Regions from separate parts of the Homo sapiens genome. Here region 1 is linked to region 2. The links come from fine-mapping of genetic effects on gene expression. Tissue or cell type: whole blood. Region 2 holds a variant in brackets; the other region holds the start of a gene. All regions are shown on one strand. Distances are from middle to middle.

Evidence for each region. PIP is the estimated chance that this variant, and not a neighbour inherited with it, causes the effect.
Region 1: TMEM35B starts here. The variant in region 2 is fine-mapped to the expression of TMEM35B in whole blood (TOPMed, PIP above 0.99).

What each region holds. Positions count from the first base shown.
Region 1 is chr1:34,983,245-34,988,475 of GRCh38, reverse strand. It overlaps TMEM35B (transmembrane protein 35B), which reads left to right and starts at 3,129. Exons shown (of 3, transcript NM_001195156.2): 1 at 3,129-3,278; 2 at 4,529-4,709. The coding sequence starts at 3,171. It overlaps ZMYM6 (zinc finger MYM-type containing 6), which reads left to right. Exons shown (of 16, transcript NM_007167.4): 16 at 1-2,311. The coding sequence ends at 1,372. RefSeq lists silencers at 3,151-3,440, 3,501-3,570.
Region 2 is chr1:35,042,413-35,047,643 of GRCh38, reverse strand. No RefSeq gene overlaps it. Among named protein-coding and RNA genes, the nearest start is that of ZMYM6, 13 kb to the right of the region's middle. The variant C/ACTAC (reference allele first, on the strand shown) is at 2,284.

The sequences.
Region 1 (5,231 bases), 59 kb after region 2:
TGGAGACAAAATGAAAACTATTCCACTTTCTAATGTTACAATTCAACACAGGATTGATGAACTATCTGCAGACATTGAAGACCAGCTGATTCAAAAGGTCAGAGAGTCAAAGTGGTTTGCCCTTCAGATAGATGAGTCATCAGAAATCTCAAATATCACACTTCTTTTGTGCTATATTCGTTTCATTGATTATGATTGTCGTGATGTAAAAGAAGAATTATTATTTTGCATTGAAATGCCTACTCAAATAACTGGCTTTGAAATATTTGAACTAATAAATAAATATATTGATAGTAAATCTCTGAATTGGAAACATTGTGTTGGTCTCTGTACCGATGGGGCTGCAAGCATGACTGGCAGGTATTCTGGTTTAAAAGCAAAAATTCAAGAAGTTGCCATGAATACAGCGGCATTTACACATTGTTTTATTCACCGTGAACGTTTAGTGGCAGAAAAGTTGTCTCCATGTTTACATAAAATTCTTTTGCAGTCAGCACAAATTTTAAGTTTTATAAAGAGCAATGCATTAAATTCACGTATGTTAACAATTTTGTGTGAAGAGATGGGATCTGAGCATGTGAGTTTACCGCTTCATGCTGAAGTACGTTGGATATCAAGAGGGAGAATGTTAAAAAGATTATTTGAATTACGACATGAGATTGAAATATTTTTAAGTCAAAAGCATTCAGATTTGGCCAAGTATTTTCATGATGAGGAATGGGTTGGAAAGCTGGCCTACTTATCAGATATATTTTCACTTATAAATGAATTAAATTTAAGTCTCCAAGGAACTTTGACTACTTTCTTCAATTTGTGTAATAAAATTGATGTATTTAAGAGAAAGTTAAAAATGTGGTTGAAGCGCACACAAGAGAATGATTATGACATGTTCCCTTCATTTTCTGAATTCTCAAATTCATCAGGCTTAAATATGACAGACATCACAAGGATTATTTTTGAGCACCTGGAAGGACTTTCTCAAGTGTTCAGTGACTGTTTTCCACCAGAACAAGACTTGCGTTCAGGAAATTTGTGGATAATTCACCCTTTTATGAATCACCAAAATAATAATCTCACCGACTTCGAAGAAGAAAAGCTAACAGAGCTATCTTCAGATTTAGGATTACAAGCACTATTTAAATCAGTGTCTGTAACTCAGTTTTGGATAAATGCAAAGACAAGTTACCCAGAACTCCATGAAAGGGCAATGAAATTTTTATTACCCTTTTCAACTGTTTATTTATGTGATGCTGCCTTTTCAGCTTTGACTGAGTCAAAACAAAAAAATCTGTTGGGTTCTGGCCCTGCCCTAAGACTTGCAGTCACATCTTTAATTCCAAGGATAGAAAAATTAGTGAAGGAGAAAGAGTAGCAATATGCACATTGCTTAACAGTGAAGTCAATAATCCTGTGTTAAGTTTTGTATAAGTATCCTAAAAGATAATTTCCTAATGTGGATTTGTGTTTTCAGTGATTAAATGTTTTAATAATTTTTCCCTTTTTGTTGAGGAATTTAATAATTATGATTGTTATAAATAATTATGTATAATTATAATCTAGGGTAGAAAATTTAGTTATTTCATTAAATTTGGACTAGTGACAAAGACTGCAGGTAATGAGAAGCCCAGTTTATAATGTAACAGCACAACCTGGATGTTGAAACAGCTTGGCCTTTAGAAGCAAGTGGAACATTTCAGTCTTCTAGCCAACCAGCTACTTACCCCTGCAAGGTTGTGAGTAGGTGGAAAAGATAGATCTTTTTTTTGAGATGGAGTTTTGCTCTTGTTGCCCAGGCTGGAGTGCAATGGCGTGATCTTGGCTCACTGGAACCTCTGCCTCCTAGGTTCAAACAATTCTCCTGCCTCAGCCTTCCAAGTAGCTGGGGTTACAGGCATGTGCCACCATGCCCGTCTATTGTATTTTTTTTAGTAGAGACGGGGTTTCACCATATTGGTCAGGCTGGTCTCTATCTCCTGACCTCAAGTGATCCACCTGCCTCGGCCTCCCAAAGTGCTGGGATTACAAGTGTGAGCCAACGTGCCCAGCTGGAAAAAGATAGATCTAAGCAGCTTGGGTAACTATAAATGGAAGCAGCAGGGGGATTTGAGACCCCTGCTTGGGGCCTTTCTGGCCCAATATACCAGGGCTTAGCAAACTTTTTAAATAAAGAGCCAGATAGTAAATATTTTCAGCTTTGCAGGCCATACTGTCACAACTACTCAATTCTGCAGTTGCAGTGCAAAAGCAGCCATAGACAATATGCAGATAAGTGTGGCTGTTTTTAAATAAAACTTATTCATGAACACTGAAATATGAATTTCATATAATTTTCCTATGTCACACAAGCTTCTTTAAAAAATGTTTTTATCATAAAAAATGTAAACAAACATTATTAGCTTGGGGGAAGGGGAGAAGCATGGAAAAAAATCAGACATCTGGCCAAATTTGGCCCATGGTTTGCCCATCCCAGCTTTAGACAGATTTCCAGGTAAGAGCAAATGGGCCAGGAGTGGACTGTAGGGCTTGGTTCAGTGAAAGCCTCTCTATCCATGCAAGTATCTGAATTTTCAAACACCTTTCACATTTCATTGTCAGCCGAGATAAATTAGAGGGAAAAGATATCTCAGGCAAAGAGACTTATTTAATAATTAATGGTTATTGATTTATTACAATTTTATAAATTAATTTACTAATTTACAAATAACTTTCTGAGCTCTTACATGTGCAGGCACTGTGCTAGGCCTGTTACAAACTCTGGAGAACTGAGTTATCCCCATATACAGATGCAGATACTGAGGCCCTTTGGGGTGGGTGACAGCTCAGATCCCACAGCTAGTGTGGCACAGGCAGGAACGAAGCCCGGGGTCTTTTGATGGTAGCTGAACCGCACCCAGACACCCACCCGTGTCTGCCAGCACTCCGTATTGGCTGGGAAACACTCCCTGAATCCAAAGGTGCCTGTTTAGTCAGTTACCAGCCAGTGGTCCTCAAGTGTCCCCACCTGTAAGATGGGGGCGCCCTGCCCCAGTACTGCAGCCTCGCGACCCCCTGGAGGGTGGGGGACGGTAGCTCAGGCGAGAGTCTTCCGGCTGCCCCGGGGAGGGAGGAAATGAGCCGGCGGCAGGGGCGGGTTTTCGGCGGGGCCAACCCACGGTGGGGGGAGCGCGGCCATGGCGCTCCTGCTTTCGGTGCTGCGTGTACTGCTGGGCGGCTTCTTCGCGCTCGTGGGGTTGGCCAAGCTCTCGGAGGAGATCTCGGCTCCAGTTTCGGAGCGGATGGTGAGCGGCGCGGGCGGGCGGCAGGGGATCGGGCCCGCGGCGGCGTGTGCTCCGCCCTGCCGCTCCTCGCCCCCGGCCCGGCAGGCCGCCTTCGGGCTTCCGAGGCTCAGCTGGAGCTGGGGGAAAGCGCCTGGCTTTCGACTGAGGCGCAGGTCCTGCCTGGGGAGTTCCTCGAGTTCTCTGGATCTTCCCTAGACGGAAGGGGACAGAACCTCCCCTTCCTGCAGAATATTGGTGGCCCCAGGCAAATCTAGAGCCTTAGGAGGTCCCTCCCACCCCCCCGGACCCTGGGGGAGGATGATGCGGTGGGAAAATGAGCTCACTTCCCGCTCTCTTCCCTCTTTTCGCCGTTTGCTTCAGTTTTTGGGAGGTTCGTGGGGTTGGGGTGTAGTAATCCTGGCTTTGCAGGGAAGGAAGCCCGCCCTGAAGGGCAAGTATATCTGCTAAAGATTGCACATCTAGTCAGGAAGCAGGACACAAGCTAGACACTCCTAACTCGGAACCCAGAGAGGGAAGCCTCTCTCGGAAGCCTGAGAGGGATGCCCTGAAGTCGTCTTTCAGCCTTCTGTCTAGTTCCAGACTCATGGGAAAGCTTTCATATCCTGTTCACCAATCTCCCCAGTCCCTCAAAAGAGCCAGACTTGTAGACCTCTGCTGGCATCTCTCTCCAAGGCCTGGATAAATCCCCAGAGACAGACAGCTTAGAGCTGCTTCCCAGCAGAGCTGAGGAGGGGAGGTAGAGCTGAGGAGTGGGAACAGGAAAAAGTATCCCCGAAAGTAAGGATGAAGTTGTCATTTGGCTCAGGGGAGGGCCTGCCTTGACAAGAAGAGTCACTTTGAGCCCACCTAACTCTGCCTCACCTCCAAATATTCCCTGTACAGCAGCCTTAAGAGAAACCAGGCCAGACACAAAGAAGGAAACTGTGGAATTCCCCAGGCCTTGGCACTAGGGAGCCAAGCCCAGCCCCCTCCTCCTGGGATTTGGGGCTGGGTTGTAATCTCTTGAGAGGTCTAGTGAGAAGATCAATCTCTGTACCACTTGGAGCATGGAGCCTGTTTCCTGATTCCAAAGCTCAGCGCCACAGGGCAGCCCTCTCCTCTTCAGGCTGACCTCAGCCCTGGACCTGACCTAGAGTAGTAGTTCTTTTCTCTGGGAAGTTGAGGGCACAGGCATAGATATGCCATGGAGCATCTGGGGAGCTCATCCTTGTTGAACAATGAGGCTAACAGGCATTCCTTGCCACCCCTAGAATGCCCTGTTCGTGCAGTTTGCTGAGGTGTTCCCGCTGAAGGTATTTGGCTACCAGCCAGATCCCCTGAACTACCAAATAGCTGTGGGCTTTCTGGAACTGCTGGCTGGGTTGCTGCTGGTCATGGGCCCACCGATGCTGCAAGAGATCAGTAACTTGTTCTTGATTCTGCTCATGATGGGTAAGGGGGCCAACTGGCCTGAGAAAATGGGGTCTTCTGGGGGAGGATTATGGAAAGACCTGGCTGTTCCCCCTTACTGTTGCCACCCTTCTTTTTTCTCTGGGATCAAGAGCACTTTCTGCTCTACCACAGTTTCCATGGTCTTCAAACTAGCACAGGTATTTTTTTTTTTTTTTTTTTTTTTTTTTGAGATGGAGTCTCGCTCTTTCGCCCAGGCTGGACTGCAGTGGCACTATCTCTGCTCACTGCAACCTCCGCCTCCTGGGTTCACACCATTCTCCTGCCTCAGCCTCCCGAGTAGCTGGGACTACAGGCGCCTGCCACAGCGCCCGACTGATTTTTTTGTATTTTTAGTAGAGACAGGGTTTCACCATGTTAGCCAGGATGGTCTCGATCTCCTGAACTCGTGATCTGCCCGCCTTGGCCTCCCAAAGTGCTAGGATTACAGGCTTGAGCCACTATGCCCGGCCTAGCACAGGTACTTTTTAAACTTAATGTGCTAGAACATTATCACATGTTAAG
Region 2 (5,231 bases):
TTGTCTTCCTCCTCCTATAACCAGAGAAAAAGGAAATGCCAAGTGCAGAGAAGCCCAGCAGACAGAGTGAGTCAAGCCTTGACGTGAAGGAAGAAAAATGAAAGAGACCTCACTTCTGAGGCCTGTGGAGCAACAGCTGGAGGTGAGGGTGAGAATCGAGGCCAGAGTGGGTCCAGTCAGAGGATGCAGGGCCAGTGTGTGCAGGTGTGTGCAGAGCTGAGGAGCTGGGTCAGCTCTGGCCATGGGTGGGAGACCTATGATCAAGGCTGAGGGAGAGTGAGAGAGTGAGAATATTTCTATGGTCTCTGGGAAGCAGCAGTTTCTGGATTAGAGCCTGAACCAGTTCTGGCCCCACAGAATTAGGGCATAACCAGAGTGTTTGTGGGTGGGGGCAGTGATTGAGTATTGTTCTCTCTGCTGGAGAGAGGGGGAGCCCAAGGCAGTCAGATGGTAGCTACTGAGGTGTAGCAAGAGAGTTTTTCTCAGGTCTGGGACCAGCATGTGGTCAAGGCCAAACCAGGGCTTCAGTCCACGTAATTCCATGGATGCATTTGTCCTCATTCTGGGTTGAGGAAGGGACTTGCATCAAATCTCTGAAGGTTGAAATAAACCTACAGCGGAGGCATGCTGAAATATTGGCTGAACACTATCCTGTGTGGGCTCACGTTCCTGGGATAGTTCATATTCACTGTCTGACTCTTCTCCAGATGCCTCTGGGTACAGCCCTTGCATTGACTTGTTTTTCTGCCCTGAACCCAGAAGCTTGGTGTTGGAGTTGGTTTTGGCACGATACAAAGCTGGGCCCTTTTACCTCTATTTGCAGGTTCTTGCTTGGTCTTGCTATGGGTCATGTGACTTCGTGTTGGCACCATTGTTCCCCCAATTTTCCCCTAAGTCCACCCCCTCATCTGGTTGCCAGAAGACTATTTATCCTCCCAATTTAAAATTTATCATTACCAGCCTGGAAAAGATTGTGAGTCCTTATCACTACAAAAATTTTTTTTAAAAATTAGCTGGTCATGGTAGGGTGTCCCTATAGTTCCAGCTGCTCAGGAGGCTGGGGGTGGGAGGATTGCTTGAGCCCAGGAGCTCAAGGCTTCAGTGAGCTATGACTGCACCACGGCACTCCAGCCTGGGTGACAGAGCAAGACCCTGTCTCAAATAAATAAAATAAAATAAAATAAAATAAGGCACTCACAGAAGGATTCCAAAGTTCATTTCCTCAGAAGTAGGCCTTCTGGAGGGCTAGTAATGTCCTATATCTTGGTCTGGTTAATGGTTAAAATACTATATTTGCTTTGTAATAATTCATGGAGCTGGTCAGGTATGGTGGCTCACACCTGTAATCCCAGCACTTTGGGAGACTGAGGCAGATGGATCGCTTGAGCTCAGGAGTTCAAGACCAGCCTGAGCAACATAGTGAGACCCTGTCTCTATAAAAATACAAAAATTAGCTAAGCATGGTAGTGCATGCTTGTAGTCCCAGCTACTCAGGAGGCGGAGGCAGGAGGATCACTTGAGCCCAGGAGGCAGAGGTTGCAGTGAGCTGAGATTGTGCCACTGCATTCCAGCCTGGGTGACAGAGTCAGACCTTGTCTCAATAATAACAGTAATAATAATAATAATAACAAAATTCATGGAGTTTTACACTTATAATTTGTACTTTTTTTATGTTTATGGATCTGCCATACCAACAACCTGTGAACTTCTATGTATGTAAAAGAGAAATAAATTTCCATCTTGTTTAAGCCACATATGCAGACCAAGGTAGTGCTCCCAAATCACCAGAAAAGGGGTGATGTAAAGTGCATATTAACAAAAACCTCATGCCTGTAATGCCAGCACTTTGGGAGGCCAAGGCAGGTGGATCACCTGAGGTCGGGAGTTCAAGACCAGCCTGACCAACATAGAGAAACCCCGTCTCTACTAAAAATACAAAATTAACTGGGCATGGTAGCGCATGCCTGTAATCCCAGCTACTTGGGAGGTTGAGGCAGGATAATCACTTGAACCTGGGAAGCGGAGGTTGCAGTGAGCTGAGATCACGCCATTGCACTCCAGCCTGGGCAACAAGAGTGAAATTCCATCTCAAAAAACAAAAACAAAAACAAAACAAAACCTTTTCCTTGATTCTTACCATCATAAACAGAAACTTCATGAGAAAGTAGGAAAAGTTTAAACTTAAATTTACGGGTCCACAGTCTCTTACTTAACAATCTTGAAATTTGAAAGGCTCTAAAAATGAAAGTTTTTCATAATTCAGTTGGTGGCATAATATAACTA[C/ACTAC]ACCTGAACTCTTTTAGCAGCAAAGCCTGACCAGAACTGATGTGAGGCTATGTTTAGTTTTATTTACTCTATTTAGGAGAAAAAATCACTAAGTTTTGCTGAAAAAATAATATATTGGGTTATGAAATGTTTTTAAAATGTTGCTGGAGGCCAAGTGCCATGGCTCACGCCTGTAATCCCAACACTTAGGGAAGCCAAGGCAGGCGGATCATTTGAGGTCAGGAGTTCAAGACCAGCCTGACCAATATGGTGAAACCCCGTCTCTGCTAAAAATACAAAACTTAGCTGAGCGTGGTGGCATGTGCCTGTAGTCCCGCTACTTGGGAGGCTGAGGGAGGAGAATCGCTTCAACCCGGGAGGTGGAGGTTGCAGTAAGCCAAGATCGTGCCACTGCACTTCAGCCTGGGCCACAGAGCGAGACTACATCTCAAAAAAAAAAAAAAAAAAAGAGTTGCTGGAAAGTGATAGGCAGCTCTCCAGTTACTGAGCATAGTGCAGGGTGGGTGAGTAGTAACTGGGGAAAATCCTAACTGAAACAAGGATAAAGAAAAAAGGCTTATATGATTCCAGGCATTAAAAAGAACATTTTACTTATAAAGGAAAGAGAATTAGACTAGCTTTGCATTTCTGTTCTACAGTACTGTGATAGAAACTAAAATCCAAGAATCTTATGCATAGCTATCATTCTTGGGCAAATTGATGACAGTTTTGTGAATACTGTACAAGATGTTAGGGAGATTGCTAGCCTTCCAGTAAAATTCAATCTTCTCCTTTCCTGTGGGATTATAATTGTAGCCTCAAACATGACATTCTATTTCCCAGCCCCCACTGTAGTTAGACGTGGCTACATGGACTAAGCTGTCTCTAATAGAATGTGATCAGAAGTGTTATGTGCCATTTCTGAGCCCAGTGACTTAAGACCAGTGTGTGCCCTCTTCACACTCTCAGGAAGATGTGCCTGTGACTCAGTTTCAATGATAAAGAAACAAGATGGGGGAATACTATGTCCATAAATGATTGTGTAGCAGCATAACTGCGAATGTCCTAAAACAATGCTCTGAAATGCAACATGAGAGAAAAATAAACTTCAATTTTGCTTGAGCTATTGCATTTTGGGGTTTCTTTGTTATAGAAATTTAGTCATTAACTAATAATCAGGGATTCAGGCAGTATATCATCCATAACTTTATCTGAGAAAAGTAATTGAAAGAGTACTCTAACTAGTTTTCAAGGTAGGAGAAAATAAAAAGAAAGAGTAATAATAAATCTGTAATCTATACAGTGAAATCTAAATACAACATAACATTGCAACTGGGAATTTTTCATAGAAGGACAAAGAAAACATTCTTGAAACTGAACACGCATACTGAGAGGAAATTGTTAATAACATCAGACTAAAAGCTGCAAACTATTTTAGTGTGTCAGTTGTCTGTTGTTATATAGCAAAGTACCCCAAAACTTTGTGACTTAAGATGATAATTTGTTATTTCTCACGATTCGGTGATTGGCTGGGCTCAACCTGGGAGTTCTGTTCCACTTCATGTTGACTGGGGTTATTTCTGTGGCTACATTCTTCTAGGATCTTGGCTGGAACATCCAGAATGGCTTCACTCATGAGCCTGGGACATTGGCAGGGAGGTTCTGGGACTTTTTTTTCCCTCTCTCTCCATGCGGTCTCTCCAGCAGGTTGGCCAGACCTATTTATGTGGTGGCAGAAGTTGCCAATCCTCTTAAAACCTACACTTGTAACTGTCACAGGGTCACTTCCCTTGCAATTGATTGGTCAAGGTAAGTCACAGTCCAGCCCAGATTCAAGTGGTGGGAAACTAATTCCACTTTCTTTTCTCTTTTTTTTTTTTGAGACAGGGTCTCACTCTGTTGCCTAGGATGGAGTGTAGCAGTGTGATCTCGGTTCACTGCAAACTCCACCTCCTGGGGCTCAAGCAATCCTCCCACCTCAGCCTCCCAGCCTCCTGAGTAGCTGGGACCACAGGCATGTACTACCAGGCCCGGCTAATTTTTGAGGTATCTTGCCCAGGCTGGTCTTGAACTCCTGGGTTCAGGCAATCCACCTGCCTCGGCCTCCCAAAGTGCTAGGATTACAGGTGTGAGCTGCCAGGCCTGGCCTTCCCACCTCTTTTAAAAATTATTTTTATTTTTAATTTTTGTGGGTACATAGCAAGTATATATACTTATGAGATACATGAGATGTTTTGAGACAGGCATGCAATGTGTAGTAATCATATCATGGAAAATGGAGTATCTATTGCCTCAAGCATTTATCCTTTGTGTTACAAACAATGCAATTATACTTTTAGTTATTGTAAAATGTACAATTATTATTGACTATAGTCACCCTGTTGTGTTACCAAATGTTAGGTCTTATTCATTCTTTCTAATTATTTTTTTGGTACCCATTAACAATCCCTACTTTCCCACCACCCAACTATCCTTCCCATCCTCTGGTAACCATTACTCTCTATCTCCAAGAAGTCAATTGTTTTGATTTTTAGATCTCACAAATAAGTGAGAACATCTTATGTTTGTCTTTCAGTGCCTGGCTTATTTCATTTAACATAATAACCTCCATTCCATCCATGTTGTTGCAAATGACAGGATCTCGTTCTTTTTTTATGACTGAATAGTACTCCATTGTGTATAAATATCACATTTTCTTTATCCATTCATCTGTTGATGGGTGCTTAGGTTGCTTCCAAATCTCGGCTGTTGTAAACAGTGCTGCAACAAACATGGGAGTGCAGATATCTCTTCAATATACTGATCTCCTTTCTTTTGGGTATAAACCCAGCAGTGGGATTGCTAGATCATATGGTGGCTCTAGTTGCAGTTTTTTGATGGACCTCCAAACTGTTCTCCACCGTGGTTGTATTAATTTACATTCCCACCAATAGCGTATGAGGGATCCCTTTTCTCCACATTTTCGCCAG